Linked DNA regions of Homo sapiens: region 1 is linked to region 2. The links come from fine-mapping of genetic effects on gene expression. A gene starts in region 2. The other region holds a variant in brackets. All regions are shown on one strand. Distances are from middle to middle. Region 1 overlaps PALLD (palladin, cytoskeletal associated protein). Region 2 holds the start of DDX60L (DExD/H-box 60 like).

The links. PIP is the estimated chance that this variant, and not a neighbour inherited with it, causes the effect.
Region 1: its variant is fine-mapped to the expression of DDX60L in whole blood (TOPMed, PIP above 0.99).

What each region holds. Positions count from the first base shown.
Region 1 is chr4:168,501,769-168,507,153 of GRCh38, forward strand. All of the region lies in intron 1 of PALLD (palladin, cytoskeletal associated protein), which reads left to right. The region is part of intron 1 of LOC107986198 (a long non-coding RNA gene); the gene reads right to left. Among named protein-coding and RNA genes, the nearest start is that of PALLD, 7.4 kb to the left of the region's middle. The variant T/G (reference allele first, on the strand shown) is at 2,417.
Region 2 is chr4:168,477,907-168,483,291 of GRCh38, forward strand. It overlaps DDX60L (DExD/H-box 60 like), which reads right to left and starts at 2,586. Exons shown (of 38, transcript NM_001012967.3): 1 at 2,471-2,586. RefSeq lists an enhancer at 2,605-2,844.

The DNA.
Region 1 (5,385 bases), 24 kb after region 2:
TTGTGACTTTCACCACCCTCCCCGCCAAGGGTGTGCCCCCCAAAACAACAGTGGTCTGTAGATGTGAACATTAACATGCGAATGTGCACTTCATTTTATCTTATATGTCTGCACCCTAACAACTTTCAAAGCTAGTTTGAGGCTGTATGCAATAAAAGCATAGTACAATTGCCCAAAATCAATTAAGAAAATGCAGATCAAACCAAGTATAAAAAGCTTTGAACTTGAAATGTTTTCTCAATTTACTACCTTTGTCCTTTCTCTTCTTAGAATCTTAACTCCCTAGGACAGAGAATCTATCTTCTTTCCAGCTATGTCCCTGGCCTATGAAAGAGGTGCCTAGCACATAGTAGGCACTCAATAAATAAATGCTGACTGAATAAAACAATGAGAAAAGTAAGCAAAATAAATTTTTTTTTTAGCTAAAAACATCTGAATTTCTATGACTGGAAATTTAACCCTGAGCTTGCTAGTATCCGTGTGAAAGAGTCATCAAAGTTTACAGAATTCTTTGTCTAACAGAATTGCCAGAAAATAGAATAAATGCTTTTCTAGTTCCAAATTTTTTCATGAGAAACTTTCTTTGAGGGTAATGAGAAAGACTGACATCCACGTCTTTATAGATACTTTTTTTTAACACAATGTCTGACCTATGACTGATTTTGCTTTAGCGAAATGAGCAGGTAAAGTGTATTTTATATGTAGACACAAACAGTTATGTGTTATATGTATACACTAACATTTAGCACTGATTACTCTATCAAGTTTTTACCAGAAAACAGAGCCCGGGACACAAGCAACAGTTGATAAAACAGAAGAAAAACCTAGTTTAAGAGCAGAATAATGTTTAGCTGCACTCAGTGGCTCACATCTGTAATCCCAGAACTTTGGGAGGCCAAGGCAGGAGGAGCCCTTGAGTCCAGGAGTTTGAGACTGGCATAGGCGAAAAAGGGAGACCTCGTTTCTACAAAAATATATTTTAAAATTTAGCCAGGCCTGACGATGCACACGCGTAGTTCTAGCTACTCAGGAGGATGAGGCAGGAGGATCCCTTGAGCCCAGGAATTCAAGGCTACAGTGAGCTATGATCATGCCATTGCAGTCCAGGCCGGGAGACAGAATGAGACCCTCACTCAAAAGAGCAGAATAACACTTAGCTGAAGAGAGCATGTCCCAGAGAAATGTCGCAGCAGGTTCTGGGAGGCTGAAAGCAAATCAGTCATCAGAACATTTCCTGCCTCGTGCCTTTGTTCACATGTGTGTCAAATCCTATCCAGGGCTCAAACCACATTTCAAACACCCGGTATTTCTTAGCTTTTCTCCATCAGCTGCTGTAACCCAGTGTGCTAAGCATTTGCCATACAAAGACGCCAGTCACAGCTCCTGCTTCCATTGGGCTCACAGTTGAATGAGGAAAGCATTCTCTAAACAAATACTTGTAATTTAATATGATGACTGCTGTGAGAAACGCAATGCAAAGTAACATGCTTGGAAGAAGAAGCAAATTATATTGATTGGGGAACTGTTAGAAAGCACCAAAAAGTGGTAAAATTTAAGAAAGTTTTCAAGGATGAACCGGAGTTTGAAAAACAGAAAGAGGGCTGGATGCAGTGGCTCATGCCTGTAATCCCAGCACTTTGGGAGGCCAAGGCGGGTGGATGACAAGGTCAAGAGATCGAGACCATCCTGCTAACAAGGGGAAACCCTGTCTCTACTAAAAATACAAAAATTAGCCGGGCATGGTGGTGGGCGCCTGTAGTCCCAGCTACTCAGGAGGCTGAGGCAAGAGAATGGTGTGAACCTGGGAGGCGGAGGTTGCAGTGAGCCAAGATGGAGCCACTGCACTCCAGCCTGGGCAACAGAGCGAGACTCCATCTCAAAAAAAAAAAAAAAGAAAAAGAAAAAGAGAAAGGAAGCACATTTTAAGCAAAAGGAGCAGCAAGTGCAAAGGTGTGAAAACCAGAAAGAATCTGAATTGTTTGAGGAATGGTGAGTGGGCCAGGGAGGCCTGAGTGCATGTGTGTTGGTGATGACAGAGGGTGAGGCTGGAGCATTTCCATCAGCTCAGGCTGTCCACGGGTATGTTTAACCTGCACATCGTGCTTTGGAACTTTTCTCATCAGCCGGGGAGCATCATAGGAAAAAAATAAAAACCAAAAGAGTGACGTGACACAATTTGTACCTATGATCTCTCTTACCATTTTTATCCCTTACTGCAATTTGTTGAAACTATTTTAATAGAAATTATCACGCTCCTCCTTGTAACTGAGTTATTTTTTACTCTTGTCTAATCCCTCCTACTGGATTGTAAGATCATTTAAGGAGAATAACTACGCCTGCCTCATCTTTGTCCTCCTTGAAGCTTCTCTTGCACAACTAAGCAGTTGTTCCGTTGATTTCATGTTCAACTTACTAT[T/G]CCAGGAAAGGGAAGTAGAAGAAAGGAAGCATGACTGTAAGATGGGCGAGGCCAAGGAAGAGTCATTTCCTCCATGGTGAAGAACATAATGCTACGCAACTTCAAGCAAATTAAAAAACAGTTGTGGTTGGCCAGGCATGGTGGCTCACACCTGTAATCCCAGCATTTTGGGAGGCTAAGGTGGGCAGATCACAAGGTCAGGAGTTCAAGACCAGCCTGGCCAATATGGTGAAACCCTGTCTCTACTAAAAATACAAAAATCAGCTGGGAGTGGTGGCAGGCACCTGTAGCCCCAGCTACTCGGGAGACTGAGGAAGGAGAATCTCTTGAACCCGGCAGGTGGATCTTGCAGTGAACTGAGATCATGCCACTGCACTCCAGCCTGGGCGACAAAGCAAGACTCCAACTCAAAAAAAAAAAAAAAATGGCTGTGGCTAATGAGCGTTTTAGGGAAAATGACAATTAAGCTAAACTGCTAAAGCTGGAGATGATGGATAAGACAAGGATGAGAAAAAGAAGAAGACAGAAGAATTTCTAGGAAATTCAGATTCCTTCTGAGAAAAGTGAGGAGGCAGGGGACAGGACAATTTAAAGATGCCAAAGAATCCTTTATTCTTCAAAATTTCAAAATCTTTCAATGCTACTTACTAAAGTAGAACCACTTTAATGGCGTTGGTGTTTACCTCATTTCCTCTTCACTCATTAACAGCAGTATTAGTGGGTCTTTTTAGTCTATTTCATCTTCTGTGTCTATCACACCGGCATAGAATTACCAAGAGCACTGTTTGACAGAAAACATGAAATCTCAGGCAAATGATGGAGATGTTTGTGATTGTGTTTCATTCCTTTTGATTTTGACCTTTTCATTTTGGAGTGCTGACTGACATGGAAATCTCTGAAGCACAATTTTCCAGTGAACTTGGCCCGCTTGGAAACCGCCCTTGTTCATCCTCATTGAATGAGCATTTTCCCTAGACCACGTGCATGTTCCCGCGGCAATAACTGGCTTGCAAATTAAGCCTGAACCAGATATGCCATAGAACTATTATTTTCTTTTTCAATGTGCAAGCAGTTTTAAAGCTACACCTAATCCTGACTACTGGATCCTGTCAGATGGCGCCTCTTTAAAACCAAAATATGAGTTAATAAGCAGGTGAGATAATCTGCCTCCAGCAAACACTCCCTACATTAAGAATTGAAAATGTTTTCATCATTCAGAAGTTTGCTTTAAGCTTTGTTATATAATGCTCCTTGTGAAGTTTTAAAATGTATCATATTATGTTCATTTGGAACTAAAAAGCAATTGAATTAATAGCAGAACTCTGATTTCTGATCCACAGTTTTGTTAGTTTGATACATTGCTTAGGATTCTCAATTATGAAAACTACAATGGTAAGATGGTAAAGTGCATAGAACATGAGCTCTGGAGTTATTCCCTGGGCTTAAACCTTGGTTCTCCCACTCAGATTTTCTGCCTCCATTTCCTCCTTTCTAAACCAGAGGCTGCTGTGAGGGTTTTAAATGAAATAATCTACATGATGACTCTGGGCACAATGCCCACCGCAGGGTAAGCAGTCCATTATTAGCCATTATCATTATCAATCATCGTGATCATTAATTGCCTTTATATGTGTTATATGAAGTCATTAGGTAGCTAATGTTCTATAGAAGGGGTTGGCAATTTTTTCCTGTAAAAGTGCAGGTAAATATTTTAGACTTCATGTGCCATATAGTCTCTGTTGCAACTACTCAACTCTGACATTGGTTCAAAAAAACAAAGACAATCTCTACATTCAAACTCCTACCCATGAATTCCAACCCAGCATATATGTCAAAGGCCACCTATTCCTTGACCATATTTTCAATGGCCTTGCCCACTTCCCTCCCATTTTACCTGCATGTCAAACTGGGATCATCTATCTCTGTACCTTCACCTGGATGGCTGAGCTCTGGTGGAGAGAATTGCACAATCACACAGATTAATGACACTATAAATACATCACATCTAACTTCAACCAGGCCCTCACCTCTACCCATAAATCCTTCTTACAAAACTTCCTTCCCCCTTTTTCTACAACAGCTATTTCAAATCATCTTCTGTCCTCATAAACCTCCAATGCACAGAAGTCTCAGTTTGGGAACTCTCCTTTCTTTCTATTACAAATTTTGCAGAGAATCTCATGTTTCTCTCTCTCTCCCTTTCTCTCTTACCGCCCCCCATGCCCCAACACACATACACCCTTTGTTACTTCTCTCCTTTAACAATGAAAGAACTGCCCCCTTCCTACTGGAAGCTGAACACCTCATACTCCGTTTGTCCTATAATAACTCATTTCTTCTTACATCTTTTGAGAGCTGACCTATAAATCATCCCCGCTTTTTTACATTTATTTTCAGCTTCTCCCTTCTTACTGCCTAATTTGGTTTGTATAAAACATGTTACAGCGCTCTATCCTAAAAATGAACAAACCTCACCAGAGTCTATACTTTTGTTCAACTACTACCTTCTGTCTCTCCTTCTTTCTATGATCTTTTCAAAACAAACCACCACACCTGTAATATTTTCTTTCTTTCCTTCTTTCCTTTCCTTCCATGTAGCAATCTGGCTTATATTTCTGTTGCATACACCGAAAGTGCTGTTGCAATGGTGCTAAATATTCCCAAGTTGCTAAAATCAAAAATCAAAAGGACATGTACTGCTTCCTGAGATATTTTCTTTCCCAGCTTCCACGATATCTAGCTTTTCTTGCTTCCCTGTGATTATTCGAAGGATTCTATCTTCTCCTTCTTTTTTCCTCGATGACCTTATGCATTCCCATGTCTTAAAGTGCCACCCATAGGCTAATAATCCCCAATCCAGCTCTGTTCTCCCTTCTCCTGGGCTCTAGATCAGCATCTCAAATCTCCTAGACATCAACACCAGAGTTACCAAAGGTCCCTCAACTGCAAAAGGCTCAAATCAAAATCAA
Region 2 (5,385 bases):
ACTGGGTGGTATGAAAGCAGAGCTGGAAAGAAGAGAATTGGCTGGACACAGCGCCTCATACCTATAATCCCAGCCCTTTGGGAAGCTGATGTGGGAGGACTGCTCAAGGCCAAGAGTTGGAGACCAACCTGGGCAACAAAATGAGACCACATCCCTATTTTAAAAAGGAAGGGAAGCGAAGGGGAGGGGAGGGGAGGGGAAAAGAGGAGAAGAAGGAAGGGAGCCAAGAAATTTGGGTCGCACAGGTGACAGCTTCTGTACTGCAAATAAAAAGTGATAGGACAAAAAAAAAAGAAAAAAAACACCTTGCTCAACAAAGACTCATAAAGAATTCTCAGTTAAACAGAAGGACTTAGCCTTGCTGCAAGTATTAGGTGGAGGTGTTACCCTCCCAGGCCAGACTATCATTTCAAATGAACTTAAGACAGATTATGCTAATTTGAGAGGGAATTAGGATGAAAATAGAAACTCTCTGGGTGTAATTAACGGCATAGGGAACTAACTAGAGCATAAGAAGCTGGATACATTTCTTAGAGAATTGTATTTCCAAATAAACTATGAGCTGCCTTAAAAATGGTTACATCAGTAAAACAAGCAGCAGGTTATAAAAAAGGGTGATATCAGTAAATCAACCAGCAGGTCTCCATACTTACAAAGCAGAAAATGAGCCTGCAGCAGGGAAAACCACAGAGATTTCCACCCACATCAACATAGCCGTGGATGATAATTAACATGGGTATTTTATTAAAAGCCATAAAGCTAATCCTGAGAAGAATTTTTAAAAATATATAATTCATATTAGAAGTATTTCTTTCACAGGGAGTCGTCGGAGTCTGTCTAAAGTAGATAAAACAAAAGACTGATTTGTAAGCATATAATTTATAAGCAACCAAGAAAGAAATGTATATCTTTGGAGTGGTAACGCCTCAGGAGAACTAAAACTGTGAGACTAAGTATGAAGGGGAAAGTAGTAGAGAAGGGCATTTAATTTTTGTTTTATGTCTTTCTCTTCTGCTTCAAATAAAACTGATCAATTATGACCCAGCATACCATGGGGTATCATACAGCAATTACTAAGTAAGACTGACAGGTACCAATAAATCATGAACCAAGAAAAGCATACCAGTATGACAGCCAAAATATCTTTTAAAGTGTATGGATCTAGAGATAGACAGATGATGGATCGATGGATGGACGGATGGTTGGATGGCTGGATGATGGATGGATGGATGGATGGATGGATGGATGGATGGATGGATAGAGAGATAGGAGCTATAGACAAAAACTTGTCTCTTTGTAGAGTATCAGGAAGGATTCACACTAAACTATCCCCAATATCTTTGGGATAGAAGGCGAAGAGCCTTGGAAGCATAACTCACCCTCATTTATTTTAGTACCCTCAACTCTCAGCACCTGAGTTCCACCAAACTTCAAACTGCAAATCTTAGATTGAATGGTATGTTACTGTTTTCAGGAGAACACTCGAAATCATGAAGGTCTGTATGTCGTTGATGTTATGGTTTGGACTTCTTATTGTGTCTTTAAAGGACTTGCTTCTGTTTGGTTCTGACCGCTTTTTCTAGCAGTCATTAGGAGCTTTCATAATCCTTAAGGCCCCATCACGGATGATGTCAGCTTCTTTGATTATGGAAAACCTTGAGAAGTTTATTATAAATTTATCAATGTAACTTTGTAAACAAAAGAGAAGCGGGAAAAAAGAACAAAGTACCTTTCCAGAGAAATAGTAAAACCTTATTTCCGCTATTAAGAGCTTAAATCCGGCCGGGCGCGGTGGCTCACGCCTGTAATCCCAGCACTTTGGGCGGCCTAGGCGGGCGGGTCACGAGGTCAGGAGATCGAGACCATCCTGGCCTAACATGGTGAAACCCCGTCTCTACTAAAAATAAAAAATAAAAAATAAAAAAAAATTAGCCGGGCGTGGTGGCGGGTGCCTGTAGTCCCAGCTACTCGGGAGGTTGAGGCAGGAGAATAGCGTGAACCCGGAAGGTGGAGGTTGCAGTGAGCAGAGATAACGCCACTGCACTCCAGCCTGGGCGACAGAGCGAGACTGACTCAAAAAAAAAAAAAAAAAAAAAGCTTAAATACAAGACGGAAAAAAGGGAAGCGGCTTGCTGCCTGTCAATGTCCAGGTTCGAATGGCTGTGCTCAGATGTGGTGACCCTTACTTTCTCCTCAGCACCCCAGATCCCCAGGCCCCCTCGGGTGCAGAGGACCCGTTAAATGCCTGAGCACTCTCCTCTCTCACGGTGGTTGTCCCTCTTCCCTACCTCTCCGCGAAGCTGCCGCCCGAGCCCAGTGGGCGCCCCAGCTTCCCTCGCCCGGCGCGCACGAAGCCACCAGGCCACCTCCCCGCCCGGTCCATCTGGATGTTGAAGGAATCCTAGAACCCCCGCGGGACAGCTCCGCTCCAGGGTCCCTAGCGACACCCGACGTCACCCGCAATCCTCACCCCGGCCGCCGAACCTGCTAGGTCCAAAGAGCTTCGGAGCTGCACGCCCCGCGGGGAGGAGGTGGAGCAGAGGAGACCGAGCGCAGAGCCTGGCGTCGGACTGGGCGCTCTGAGCCACACAGCAGCCAGCGCCTGAGTTTTTATCTAGGGAGTTAGTTTCGGTTTCTTTTCTCCACCGCGAGGCCTTTTCGATTTCCGCAGTTTTCTGGAGGTAGAATATAGGTCTGCATTGGTTTACTCTGAGAATCTTAGGGAAGTAATAGTAGAAGCGATGATATGCTATCTGGGACATGCATGTAATTGTAAAGGGAAAGAAAGCAGAGAAATCTGGGACTCTAAACAAGGAATTGAGGCTGAGAGTAAATGCAGCACGCTAAGCACTATGAAAGTCTGCGGTGAGGTGTGGCGTTTTTCTTTTCTGGCAAGGTACTGGACAGGCAAAAATGGAGTAAAAAAGGATTAGGGGCTTTGAGTTTCTGTCCTAAGAAGTTCATTTTATGAAAAATTTCCAATAGTATAACTGTCCAGTGTGAACATTTGAAAGACCAATCATCTATCACAGAGAATTTAAATTGAGAAGAAGAATGCTCTTTAGTTTTGTCATCAAGCTCATTAATGTTTGAAATTCGAGTTTCAACCCCAGCCCATCATGGTCTTTAGTGCTCCAGACGCTTAATTCCATGACGTTATGCATGTGCAGAATATATTGAGATTCAAGGTGGTGGTGAGGGTGCCCCAGTAACGGCATGGGGTAATAAATGGAGAGAAATCGAAACCGGAAGTTCTGTCTTCAAGAAAAGGAAAGGGTGGAAGTGACTTGTTCACAATAGAAAGAGCCCAGAAGAACAAAGTTTTTTCTCAGACTCTGGAATATAAAGTGGCTTCGAAAAGGAGGTGAAAACATTGCTCACTTCTGTCAGGATTTTTCTTTAATTTTATGTTTGGTTGAAAATAGTTATGATTCTCTTTCTCAATGAGGATGACATTGAGAAAGAACCTGAAATGACTCATGATTAAGTCATGAGTTCATCTCAGATGAATTCCTCTCTAGCATCTGATACTGGACCTTTGTATCATAAGAATGCATTTGCTAGCAGCAGAAAATTGGGCTTTGCTGTAAAAGCATTCATTGAGCTTTTTATGTGCCAGGCAATAGGCTAAGCCCTTAACATGTATTATCACATTAAATCTCACAGAAATCCCATGAGCAACTTTACTGTTGCTATTTTATGGATGAGGTAAATAAGGCTTAGAGAATTCAATTACTTGTCGATGACCCTACAGGTAGTTAATGGTAGCCAAGACTTCAAAATTTAATTCCAAAGATAATATCTACAATATTCTCTGTATATATTATCTCATTCCAGTTCTTTTAAATACTACAGTGTCATTATTCCTCCCCCAAAGCACATACAATTTAATGGGGATTTCCTCTTTTGGTTGTAGAAGTGGGCCCTACATGTTCTTAATATAATTGACTGTCTGCTGTTGTTTTTCTCTCTTAAAGATATAGATGTATCAGGTGGGGATTCCCTAGATGTTAACTCCACACATCCCACTTCCCACCGCAAAGTATATGTACAATGCACATAAGCAGACTCTACTCCAAATCAATATCCAGTTCTCTTCCACTTTAATAATATGTTACCATAACTCCAGCCTGGACATTATCCAGAAACTTGAAAATCATAAACTCCATTTCCACTTTTTAGAGACTTCCCCCTTGCCTCAATCTCTCAGTCTCCTTAGGAGCCCCACTCTTTCACCTCCCCAGGATCAACTCTGTGAACAGGCACTGAACCTTCCTCTCACTAACATTCTCAACTGCTTCATCCACTCTCTTTCCTCTGCACCTTCACTGCAACTTGATCACCTCAATCTAGTAAACCATTTTTTGCCCTTACCAGGACATTGAAGGAAATTGTCTAATATTTTTCACCTCAGATTTACTGTTTATGACTATAGGTTCCTGATCTTTTTTACAGTGGCCCTTAAAACCCTACAGCATCTTGCTGTTCTCTTCAAGTCCACTAAGAATATATCTGTTTTAAAGAGACTCCTTTTAACTGTCTGACACCTCCATCTAGTCCAAGAAGCCCATGACATGCTCCACATACAATATAACCACTCCCTTTTGAGTTGGTTACCTCCAGCTTCCTCAGGAATCTCACTCCATTCCTATATTGTTAACCTCTCTCTATTTACAGCTGTGGTAGACTGAATAATGGTCTCCCAAAGACATCTATGTCCTAATCCTTGTACCTATAAATATGTCATCTTCTGTTGCAAAAAGAACTTTGCAGATATTCCTAAGAATCTTGAGATGGGGAAATTACCCTGGATTATCTGGGGACCTGATATAATCAGAAGGGTCCTTATAAGAGGGAAGGACTATTATCAAAAAGGAACCAGGACAAGGATAATGTGGGAAATTATCAGGATTTCAAGACTGCAAAGGATGGTAAAAGTAAGAGACTCACTGCTGGGAAAACGTACTCTGGAGAAAAAGTCATGAGTACAGCTGGACAACCTTTTGCTAGTGCTTCAAAAAGATCTCTGTGACATACACAGGAAATCCAAAAGATTTCTGAGAATATCAGCAGAAACACTGCCAGCTTGAACTGAAAGGTACAGAGAGAGAATAAAATGAAAGACGGTTATAGGACTCCCAAAATTCCATAAGCAATAAACAGTCTGATAAAACTATTCAGCCCCAAACTTGTGCTATCTTTCATGAAGGATGACTCTGAGGGCAGAGCCTAGAGACACAAATGGTTATTCACAGGCCTTAAAACCTATGGAGTTAGCCTTGCAGATTTTTGAAATTTCTTGGCTTTTTCTCCTTCCATTTTCTCCCTTTGTGAACAGGAATATCTGTAACTGGTACCCTATTCCTGTTCCACCATTGTATTTTT